Linked DNA regions of Homo sapiens. The protein of the gene in region 1 purifies or fractionates together with the protein of each later gene. This does not show direct contact. Each region holds a gene or a part of one and is shown on either strand. Other genes may lie near its edges. The genes, in order: AGAP3, TANC1 and NBEA.

What was found.
Region 2: the proteins of AGAP3 (region 1) and TANC1 purify together in Homo sapiens (affinity purification with mass spectrometry; one large-scale study listed by BioGRID and IntAct). This does not show direct contact.
Region 3: the proteins of AGAP3 (region 1) and NBEA purify together in Homo sapiens (affinity purification with mass spectrometry; one large-scale study listed by BioGRID and IntAct). This does not show direct contact.

The regions. Positions count from the first base shown.
Region 1 is NC_000007.14:151,120,839-151,124,487, reverse strand, and holds part of AGAP3 (arf-GAP with GTPase, ANK repeat and PH domain-containing protein 3), read right to left. Parts: intron 1,764-3,649; coding exon of another isoform or gene 1,537-1,763; exon of another isoform or gene 850-1,536; intron 695-849; coding exon 602-694; intron 1-601. UniProt on the Homo sapiens protein: GTPase-activating protein for the ADP ribosylation factor family. GTPase which may be involved in the degradation of expanded polyglutamine proteins through the ubiquitin-proteasome pathway.
Region 2 is NC_000002.12:159,227,104-159,230,752, reverse strand, and holds part of TANC1 (protein TANC1), read right to left. Parts: intron 2,935-3,649; coding exon 2,788-2,934; intron 1,958-2,787; coding exon 1,857-1,957; coding exon of another isoform or gene 1,852-1,856; intron 1,176-1,851; coding exon 1-1,175. UniProt on the Homo sapiens protein: May be a scaffold component in the postsynaptic density.
Region 3 is NC_000013.11:35,158,667-35,162,315, forward strand, and holds part of NBEA (neurobeachin), read left to right. Parts: intron 1-349; coding exon 350-1,366; intron 1,367-3,083; coding exon 3,084-3,301; intron 3,302-3,649. UniProt on the Homo sapiens protein: Binds to type II regulatory subunits of protein kinase A and anchors/targets them to the membrane. May anchor the kinase to cytoskeletal and/or organelle-associated proteins.

The DNA.
Region 1 (3,649 bases):
ACCCCAGCTGCTCTGGCTCAACACATCAAAGAGACGCCCTCCGTGGGGCAATGCCGTGTCCACTGCAGGAATCCAAGACCGGAGGTGTGGAAGAAGGCAGGCCCAGGGCCCCCAGGACTGACTAGAAAGGAGGTGGGAGAGGTGAGGAGGTAGTCTACTTTTTTCTTTAAAGACGAACAGAGGCCCTTATTAACAAAACCATGCCAACAGACCTAGCGCTGGACTAGCCCTCAGTATCCCCTTCCACGCAGGCTTCTCGGGTTGCTCATTTTCCTTAGAGAGCCACTCAACCCTCTCCAGACCCAACTCCAGAACCAGCGGGACAGGCTGAGCGCCTGGCTGAACACGGCAGGTAGCTCTCTGCTGCCCTCCGGTGGTGATCAGAAGGTACAGGCAGAGCTCGTGGCCTGAAGGTGGCGGCGCAGAGAAGGTGGCTTCTCACTGGAGAGCCAGTCCCTTGTTAAGGACTCCGCCTAGGAGGGTGGTGCTGGCCTCTGATGCCATCTCCCCCATCACAGAGGCCTGAGAAGAGGCCCTGGGAAGCGCCACATTCCTGGGCCTCATTCTGAGCCCTGGAGCACACGGGAAGGGAGGCGCTGACCTGCTTGATGGGGATGGCGCGGCCGCTCCCGATGCTGTCCACCTTGCACTCGGCAGCCTTCTTCTCCCGGTCCAGGTCAGCACCCTTCCGAGACTGGAAGAGAAAACAAGAGGCGTGTTAAAGAGGCCCAGGGTCTGCCGAGAGCTGCCCACCTGGACTTCCCGGCCTCCCTCCTGCCTCCCTCCTCCTGGGCAGCCCTAGCAGTGGGTCGGGCCGGGGCGGCGGGACGGGAAGGAACTGAGACCACGAGTATTCCAACGGGTTTATTCTTACACACGGCACCATACAGAGCAGCACAGGTCACTGAGCCGGGCCCGCCCCTTACAAAAGAGCAAGGACAGAGAGGCCGAGGGCGCGAGGAGCACGCCCGGGGCGGGGGCGTAAGAGAAGCGGGGGCGAGGAGGTGGACGGTGGGGCTGCTGGTCGGGAGCACAGGGCGCGACAACCGGGAGCGCAAAGTCCACAAGTGAGCGGGCAGATGGCCCGTCTGCGGCACAGACACCACACGGCACGTGGCACCGAGCGCGTCGGCGTGGCCCAAGGGGCACAGTGGATGGACAGAGAGAGGAGAGAGGCCAGAAGAGGCCCTGCACCCTGTCAAGCTCCTGGGGCAGAGTCCACCCGAATGCGGATCCTAGGAAATAGGGGGAGGCCAAAAAGAGGGGGCAAGGCAAGCGCGGCGGCGGCGGCGGCTTCCGGAGCAGGAGCAGGAACGGCAGAGGTCCATGCAGGAAGGAGCAGAGGAGGGGAGGGGCAGGAAAGCGCCCCCCAGGAGCAGCCGGGCCGGGCGGGCTTGGACTCCCCCGCCCCTCTGGGCCTCGTCGCGCTGGCCAGCGCCGGGCGTGGGGCCGAGCTGCCTTCTTCTCCATGCAGCGAGCCTGCAGCGTCCGGCCGGGCCTGGTCCCCGGCAGCCCCCAGCGCGGGCTCCGGCGCTCCTAGCCTTCCCTGGGGGTGGGGTTAGTTACAAAGGTTCCCGTGGGTCTCTGGAGTGGGGAGCTCGGCGGCCGCTTCTCATCTGAGAGCAGTCCCAGGGCCCGGCCCGCCTCCGGCCCCGCACAGGGGGCATGTCCAGAGGTGCTGTGTGTCACCAACTGGTCTTCTAATTTGGAAGGAGTTGGAAAGGCCTTTTTGTTGATGAAAAGTTGGAAACAGTGGCACATATCTGCAAATATCGAAAGAATAAAGATTTTGGCAAGTTATACTCAAGCCCCGCACAAGTCGGTCAGCACCGGTGAGGGCAGAGACCCAGGCGCCTGGGGAGCGGCGGCAGCGGGATGAAGAGGAGGAGGAGGAGGAGGAGAAGGACGAGGAAGAGGAGAAGGACAAGGAGGAGGAGGAGAAGGAGGAGGACCAGGAGGAGGAGGAGGCGGCGGCGGCGGCGGGCGGCAGCGGCACCTGCTGGGCAGACACAGGCCAAGCGTCCACCTCAGCACGGAATGGTATGTTCGCCACTCGGCAGCCCAGGCCCCATCCCTCCCGTTCTCCCAGGCTGCCAGGAGCCAAGGGCACAGCGAGGGGACACAGGGCCACAACTGCAGCGTGGGAGAAAGCAAGGCCAGAGGGAACAAGGAGAACCGGGCAAAAGAGCCGCCGGAGAGCAAAGTGCCACCCAGCAGCTCCACAGGCGGCACCGCCCCATCCCCTCCTGGGCTCCACGGCCCAGACCGCCACAGCCCTCTGCCCCTTTGGCCCAGGGAGGAGGAAGGTGGATGGGACTGCTGCCACCGGGTCCCCAGACAGAAGAGCCGGTTTGGGGGGAGTGGGGTGCAGCCCACCCCAGCCAGATTGTGAGCCAAGAGGCCCCGACCACCAGAGGACCCCTGGGAGCCCAGAGGGGCACCTCCCCATGCGGACAGGAACTGGGGCAAGAGCAGCAACGAAATGAGCACATGAAGTCACAGGAGAGACTGGGGACAGCACAACCATGTCCAGTAGGGGGTCACTAGCCACAGAGCAGGCAGGACACAGGGGCTCGCCCTCGAGCAAGCATGTCGCTGCTGGGGAGGACGATGAGGGAGAAGAGGGGAGGCCCCAACAGCAATGATGAGAGGGGAGGTCCCGAGATACACCCACAGAGACGGACGCGTCTTGAGGCCGTCTCAGGGACAATGGTGCAAGTGAGGTCACCACAGAAACAATGGAAGGAAAATATAAGGTCGCCGCTGTGAGGATGGAGAGAATGGAAGCGCCAGAGGGAAGGCCGTGCCGTGAGCAGCCAGGAGGGAGGGCAGCAGAGTCGAGGCAGGCAGCAGAGAGCACAGGATGGCAGGAAGCACGGGGCGCAAGGGAGGAGGCCGGGGACTGGGCGTGGGCGGAGGAGAGGGTAGCAGGGCAGGGAAAGGCAGGGGGTGCCCTGGGGTTGCTACAGAGCTTGCCAACGAGGGGAAGGGGAGATTAAGAATGGAACTGAGGCAGCGGATGACTGAGGCACGATGCCAGGGAGCAGGGTGCCCAGGCCCTGGCAGTAGGCACCGTGGACAGAGGCACCTAAGGGTCCCGCAGCAGCAGCAGCAGCAGGTGTGGGCTCGAGCAGGCGGCCCCCCCCACGCTCTAATGTCTCAATGGCCATGGATAGAAAGGAGAAGCTGCACATTTAGGCAGGGTCAGGGCCGGGCAGCTGCAATGTGTGGCGGACCGTCAGCACAGAGTCTCTGTTAGCATGGATGGCCGCGAGGGCAGGTGGCGGGCTCGGGACAGAGGCAGGCAGCCGGGAGGGAGAAGTGAGCTGGGCAGGCAGAGGCGAGGATGAGTGAGCAGGGCTTGGAAGTGCCAGCTCTGTCCGGGCAGGGTCCGGAGATCTGGCCTGGCTGGCCGCACTCGGGCCCAGGCTGAGAGCCAAGCCCTGCTCTCGGAAAGAGGCGCATGGAGTGACGCGGAGGGGCGGGCGCTCTCGTGACAACCCACACGGGGGTTCACCCACCTTTGTCTGGCCCAAGACTCCTGGAACATCCAGCCAAGCCCGGCTGGAGGATTAGGGTTTGGATGGGCACTGTGTGTCGCACATTGGGAGTGGAGAGACAGCAGGCCCTGGGGCCTGAGAGCCAGAGG
Region 2 (3,649 bases), on another chromosome or scaffold:
CCACTTGCATGAGAGAGGGCTTCTCAGTGTTAGCAGACTGCAGGCCAGCTGCAGAAGACGTGTTTGTCAGCAGCCCCTCTGGTGCCGGACAGTGCCAGCTGCGGCTTGGAGGATTGCTCTGCTGTTGGAACCTCGCAGTCTTATCCATGATGCCCATGAACGGCGTGTTGCGGGGTCTGTGCTCAGCTGTACCGCTCTGAACGTGGGTTACAACCTTGTCTTTAATTCTAGTATCTGGTCCTTGGACCTTGAAGCCATCTGAAAAACTGCTGCTCGAAGTCAAACTACTGGTTGAACTTGACATCTTTATGCTGCTGGATGGAGAACCAGAAGAGCCTGAGCTGGTGAGGGAAGCTGGGTGTCGCACGTCGCTGCAGGTCGCCAGCCCACCTTGGTTTGGAGGGGCTGCGTCCACAGCCACGGAGGAATGAGACAGAAGCCTCTCTGTGGTTTTCGTCTTACTTGGTAAAGGGTGTGCAGGGCCATTCTCACCACACTGCAGGCGGACATTCTGGCTGGGGCCCAGCCGATCCCCAAAGTGGCCACAACCAGCTCTTGTAGTGAAAGTACCTGTTCCCTCTAAATGCTGGGTTCTGCTCCCAGCAGGAGTGGCAGCGATTCTCCCTGGCATGGGACTTGGAGGAGGGTTCTGAGAAGAGATCTGAACTTTCATACTGCCATTTCTCACTGCCGACTGGCCAGAGCCCAGGTGCTGGCTGGTTTTCACGATCTGGGCCTGCTTGGAGGGCTGCAGGAGCAGCCCTGGCTGGGCCACAGGCTCTCTCAGGGACTTGCCGATTCCTGCCCTGCTCTGTGGCGATACCGGCCTTCCTTTGGACTGTAACCCTTCTTGAAGGTTTCGGATGTATGAGGAAGGGACAGATGAGGATGGCTGGGACCTGGGAGTTGGGGAAACAGATTCTTCCTGGGGAGAAGTTTCTTCCTCTTCAGTCTCCTCAGAGTGAAAGTGGTCACTTAAGCCAGGGGTTGGGGTGTCCTCTTCGTTCTCGGAGTCGTTGAGTGGAGCTGGTAGCGGGCCCTGCTGTTTTTGCTGTTGACTCCTCTGGAGTTGTTTGCACTCCTCTTCTACGCGGGCCAGAAGCCTCTTGACTTCCTGATTGGTGGGACAGAGTTTCACAGCCTCTTGCAGGTCAGCCAGAGCTGCCACGAATTGCCTTTGTAGGAAAATGTAAGGTAACATTACAAACCACACACGAACATGCTCAGAGTGTAACTGTTCATAAAAGAGCTGTGCTCAAAGGAAAGAGAAGGTAGCAAGTGAGTTTTGAACACTTACGGTGGTGGCCAGGACCCACTTAACCAGCCCAGAGTAACTCAGCTAAGTGGCAGTGCTGAATTCTAACCTAGGTAGGTGGGACTCTACAGCCCTGCTCTCCATAAAGACCACTGGACTGGGAATAGGGAGAAGCATGAATCAGTGGGCGCCAGAATCTTTTTAATATTGTTACCATCCCATGGTAACACTGTGCCCATCTCTCAGTCAACAGGCTTATATCACTCTTCCCCACCTCTGAACTTCCTAATGTCCCTAGTTGGCAGTTTCCTTGAAATATGGACTAAACTAGGTAGGAAGTTCATGTTGCAGTAAGTTTCACGTGGGGGGAGGGGTGGGAAGGAATGATTATTGAGACGTCAGGAGAAAATAGAAGTTTACTCATCACTGATAATGTCCACTACTATGCCTCTTGGAAGCAGGTAGTAATACTAATTCACTACTAAAAAGGATGAGAGGCACCTGAGCAACACTTCTGCAGCAAAACCTCCCCAAATTCAACAGGCAGGTTTGATCCCACAAGAAAAAAAGCTCTAGACACAAAGATAACCACAGACGGTACCTGCTATTTCTCTTCGCTCTTGCTCTGGCATAAAAGGCTTCATAGGACTTGGGCTTCAATTCGAGAGCCTTGGAAGCAAATTCCTCTGCCATGCCAAAGTCCTGGTGTCGACAAGAAATACAGGAGTCAGAAGCAGCCTGGACACACGATTGTGGGAAGCCCGTCTAGTTTTGTTCTAAAGGGTAGCAGCGCTCTGAGGCACAGCCAGAGAGGGAGGAAGGGAAAGTTCCGTTTTCTATCTTGTTTTAAAGTGAGGAGATAATGATGGTTGATTAATATCATTAGGAGAAGAATCCACTATGAAAACAGTGGTAGTAACAGTGCCCCAAGAAGGCCAGATGGTGGAACCTCACAGCCCGGTGGAGGGGCAGCCTCAGAGAGGAGCGCAGACACTGCATCTATTCCGGCAGCAGGGCACAGAAGCAAGCAGCTCAACAGACTGGGGCAGGAGGACACAGTTAAAAAAAAGGTAGGAAGTACTACTGAAACAGATCTACTAGTTACAAATCGACTATGAGTTCCCCACGACCGGTTACAAATTAGTTACTGGCAGACCCTCTGAGCAAACCTAACACAGAAGGCAGGCCCACCACAATAGGCTTGGGTTGGACTCTCCTGAATCCGGGGACGGCAGTGCCAGCAGCAACAGTGTTGGGAAGCTGCAGAGGAGCAGACTGCATTTGCTTCTCATTACTGAGGCCAAGGAAACGAAACCCAAGTGCATTCCTTCAACATCATGCGAGGAGCGTAGCAGCCGTGACCAAACGATAGTCACGGATAGGAGCTGTTTCCCACATGCCAGGTTCATGTAAATGTGCAAGCAAATTGGACAGGAGGGCCCAGGATCTGGTCTGGAGAAGGGCTGGCCTTCACTGCTGGAGAAGGGCTCTGTTGCTGGAAGACTGGGTTGGAATAAAGGGGCACAGCTTACATTTGTTTTTCTTCGGCATCGCGACAAATTGAGATAGAGGGAAACCCTTAATTCATTGAAGGGTCTCATGTCCTCTCCGAATCCTTCTCGAGGAAACTTTCTTAAGGCATACTGGTACCTCTGGGCTGCCTCTTTCATTTTCCCTTTCTAGGATTCAAAAATCACAAACATTTGTCCTTTTTCAGAGGTTCTAAAATGAATAACTCCCACACCTGGAACACCGTGGGGAGTTTACTCCCCCCTGCAAACCCACGACAGAACATTGAAAGCATCCAAACAAGTGTCAAGGTGGGAGCTAGTTCACTAACTGGGCTGGCACATGAGGGCTTCACTGTCCTCACATGCACCCGCATCCTGTGGTTACACAGTGAGAAAGAAGCTGGTTTTACAATAAGGTGTCTGTAAACTGCTAGATTGATAATTACCAAACTTAATGAATCAGATTACCTTCTGGTATGTATTTTTGAAAATTATTTCAAGAATGATCTCAAATCTATTTGAATGCTAAGTGTAATAGAAATCAGATGAAAAACTGATCCTATTCCTAGGACAAGTAGCATCTTGTAGATAAACCTAGAGAGCTTGCTGCAGAATAATAATTTTTCTTCTAAGAGGAATTAAAACATGGGCTTTAAAAATCAGAACAGCACCACACATCATTTTCAAAGCTAAAAAAATCCATTTGCTCAGTCAGTCCCATTGCACAGCAGGTATGAAGCCTGTTGAAAATGGCTTCCTATTTCTGACATAATTGCCTACCAATCCATATTAAAAGCACTTCAAAGCCACAACAATACACTCAACTCAATTTCAAGCTGATTCCAAGCCAGGAACCCTGCTGGGTCATGCTATATTGCCTATT
Region 3 (3,649 bases), on another chromosome or scaffold:
AGCTGCTTATTCTCTGTTTAAGCTTACATAAATGTGTGGAAGTTAACTGGCATATTTGGTTTGGGTAACATTGAAATACTTAGCCTAAAAGAAAATAGCTTTTAATATTGCTGAGTTATCTGTGTGATTTTGGCAATCCTTATAATAAATCATATATAGCTGTATTTGTTGATTATTTCCAGTTACTTAATGAAACTAAGCACTTGCTTTAGGACTAACAAATGCCAGCTTTGAAGTCTTAAACTTTCTGGCATTATTTTTTCTATTTCCACAATTTAATTTGTATTATTTAGTTTTTTCTTTTTGATATGTACAAAATGCCTTAATGTTTTCTTTACTTATTCCTAAGGTCACTTATGAAGCTCATAAGGAATACCTAGCCAAAATGTATGAGGAATATCAAAGACAAGAGGAGGAAAACATTAAAAAGGGAAAGAAAGGGAATGTGAGCACCATCTCTGGTCTTTCATCACAGACAACAGGAGCAAAAGGTGGAATGGAAATTCGAGAGATAGAAGATCTTTCACAAAGCCAGAGCCCAGAAAGTGAGACCGATTACCCTGTCAGCACAGATACTCGAGACTTACTCATGTCAACAAAAGTGTCAGATGATATTCTTGGAAATTCAGATAGACCAGGAAGTGGTGTACATGTGGAAGTACATGATCTTTTAGTAGATATAAAAGCAGAGAAAGTGGAAGCAACAGAAGTAAAGCTCGATGATATGGATTTATCACCGGAGACTTTAGTAGGTGGAGAGAATGGTGCCCTTGTGGAGGTTGAATCTCTGTTGGATAATGTATATAGTGCTGCTGTTGAGAAACTCCAGAACAATGTACATGGAAGTGTTGGTATCATTAAAAAAAATGAAGAAAAGGATAATGGTCCATTGATAACATTAGCAGATGAGAAAGAAGACCTTCCCAATAGTAGTACATCATTTCTCTTTGATAAAATACCCAAACAGGAGGAAAAACTACTTCCTGAACTTTCTAGCAATCACATTATTCCAAATATTCAGGACACACAAGTACATCTTGGTGTTAGTGATGATCTTGGATTGCTTGCTCACATGACCGGTAGCGTAGACTTAACTTGTACATCCAGTATAATAGAAGAAAAAGAATTCAAAATCCATACAACTTCAGATGGAATGAGCAGTATTTCTGAAAGAGACTTAGCGTCATCAACTAAGGGGCTGGAGTATGCTGAAATGACTGCTACAACTCTGGAAACTGAGTCTTCTAGTAGCAAAATTGTACCAAATATTGATGCAGGAAGTATAATTTCAGATACTGAAAGGTCTGACGATGGCAAAGAATCAGGAAAAGAAATCCGAAAAATCCAAACAACTACTACGACACAAGTAAGCTACCTTATATGAGTTCTAGAAATAAATAAAAATGCATTGAAGAGTTGTTAGCACCAAAACAGAGTAATTTCTTATCAGTTACTTCATGTTTATATTGAATTATAGTATAATAGTAATTTATGGAACTAAATAGTGCGGTATAATTTCATGTATGTAAGAAACTAAAAATATCTCAATTATATTTCCAACTCTGCCACATTCTTCTGTGTAACTTTGCTCAACCTCTCTGGGCCTAAGTTTCCTTATCTAGTACAAGAGGTTGTACTAAAGGATGACCTTTAAGGTCTCTGCCAGTTCTAACATTTTATAACTCTGTGACTACATTTACACATTTTGTACTCAAGATCTTCATTCTGAATACTTGATTAATTTTAACCTTTTAAGCTTCAGGCCCAACCCTGTTCTGTGGATTATAGAAAAGAGGACTTGGAGCCCAGATTGAACTGATAAATGAAGGGGAAGGGAAAAGGGAACTGTTATTTATCCAGTGCCTACTATGTTCCGGGCACTGTGCTATATGTTTTCAGATTTAATCCTCACAACAACCCTGTGAGGTAGGTAATATGGCTGAGAAAAATTAGAATTGTTAGCAGTGAGAATTTTCTGTTCAACCACATGAATAGAAATTTGTTATAAGACAATTAAAGACTCTTAGGTCTGGTTGTTAGGAAATGTTAGTGCTTCAGTTTTGACCTCACTGGAATAAAGCTAAAAACAGATGATGTTTTCTGATATGGATTTTAATTGTTGAGCTCTGAGTTATGACTGTTTCTTTATTTTCTAGGATAAATAATACCTTATGGTTAAGAGTTGAAGAAATAAGAATACATTTACCGTTAATGACTTGGGTTTTGTTATCCTCTGGGTGCCCCACTTGCCTTTTAATGTCATTGAAAATACATTGAATGTGTTTCCATTAGGTTTATACTATGAAGAGTAAACCATGCCTGTCTTGTGTCTTTGTACTCCAGTAAGAATCCTTCATAATATATCGTGTGTGGGGAAAGTATTTTTATTTTTTCTCTAACTGCCAATTTCCATTTTTGTGGCAGTTGCATTGTAGTGATAATTGGCAGGAGATGAGCATATTGAATTAGATACAGATGTAAAATAAAGGAAAACATCGTGCGTTGTTTATTGAACAATAGGCTTGCCTGTTGAACACTAGGCTTGCCTGTTTTTCATTTGGAGTTTATAGACATTTTTCTGGTTTGTTTTCTAACTTATCAAATGCATTTGTGTTTTTGAATTGAAGTACTGTAAGTGAAACAGACTTCAAAGTTAACTTGAAACTGTCAAGTAATATTTTTTCTAATCTTGTGCTTTAGTTACAATTAGTTGATGACATATATCCAGTATACTTCACTGTGTATATGCTCACTTCATTAAGGAAGTAATGTGGTCTAATTTAAAGACTCTTAATGGGGTAAAGGGGTCTGGTTTTCAGTGTGAACTTTGGTGTTAACTTTAGGTATTTGATTATCTTGCCTAGTTTCTGCAATAGTAAAATAAAAGCAATAATGGAGACTTCAGCCCAAAAAGTTTCCTGTGCAAGGAATTACCAGGTGAATAATATATGTGAAATATATTAAACTGCTAAAGTCATATGCTAAAGCATTAAAGCATTATTCACTTTACTATACTCACAGTTTCATTTTAAAATGAGGCATTTCTTTTGTATTCCACAAAAGTTCATCTTTTCCTTCTTTAGGCTGTGCAGGGTCGGTCTATCACCCAACAAGACCGAGATCTCCGAGTTGATTTAGGATTTCGAGGAATGCCAATGACTGAGGAACAGCGACGCCAGTTTAGCCCAGGTCCACGGACTACAATGTTTCGTATTCCTGAGTTTAAATGGTCTCCAATGCACCAGCGGCTTCTCACTGATTTACTATTTGCATTAGAAACTGATGTACATGTTTGGAGGAGGTAGAAATATTTCTTTTTTATAAATTAAAAGCAAATATTTAAAATATGCCATTGCCTATTCTATTTGGTTTTGACAAAACCAAAAATCTGCCTTGATTAAAGGAATTTCCACATTTTTCTTGTATCTTGTTTAAATTAATACCATGTACTAAATTTATTAGTGATAATAATATATACTGTTTAAGTTTAAAATCACCCTGTGACATGTGTATTCAGAGCCTGTAGTATTTAAGCAGTTAGTGGATATCAGTTCAAAGATGATAACTTAGACAACAAATCTACATAAAGTAAACCATGGCCTTTCTAAATTTTCAATTTAATTTTTTAATAGTAAATGTGAAACAAATT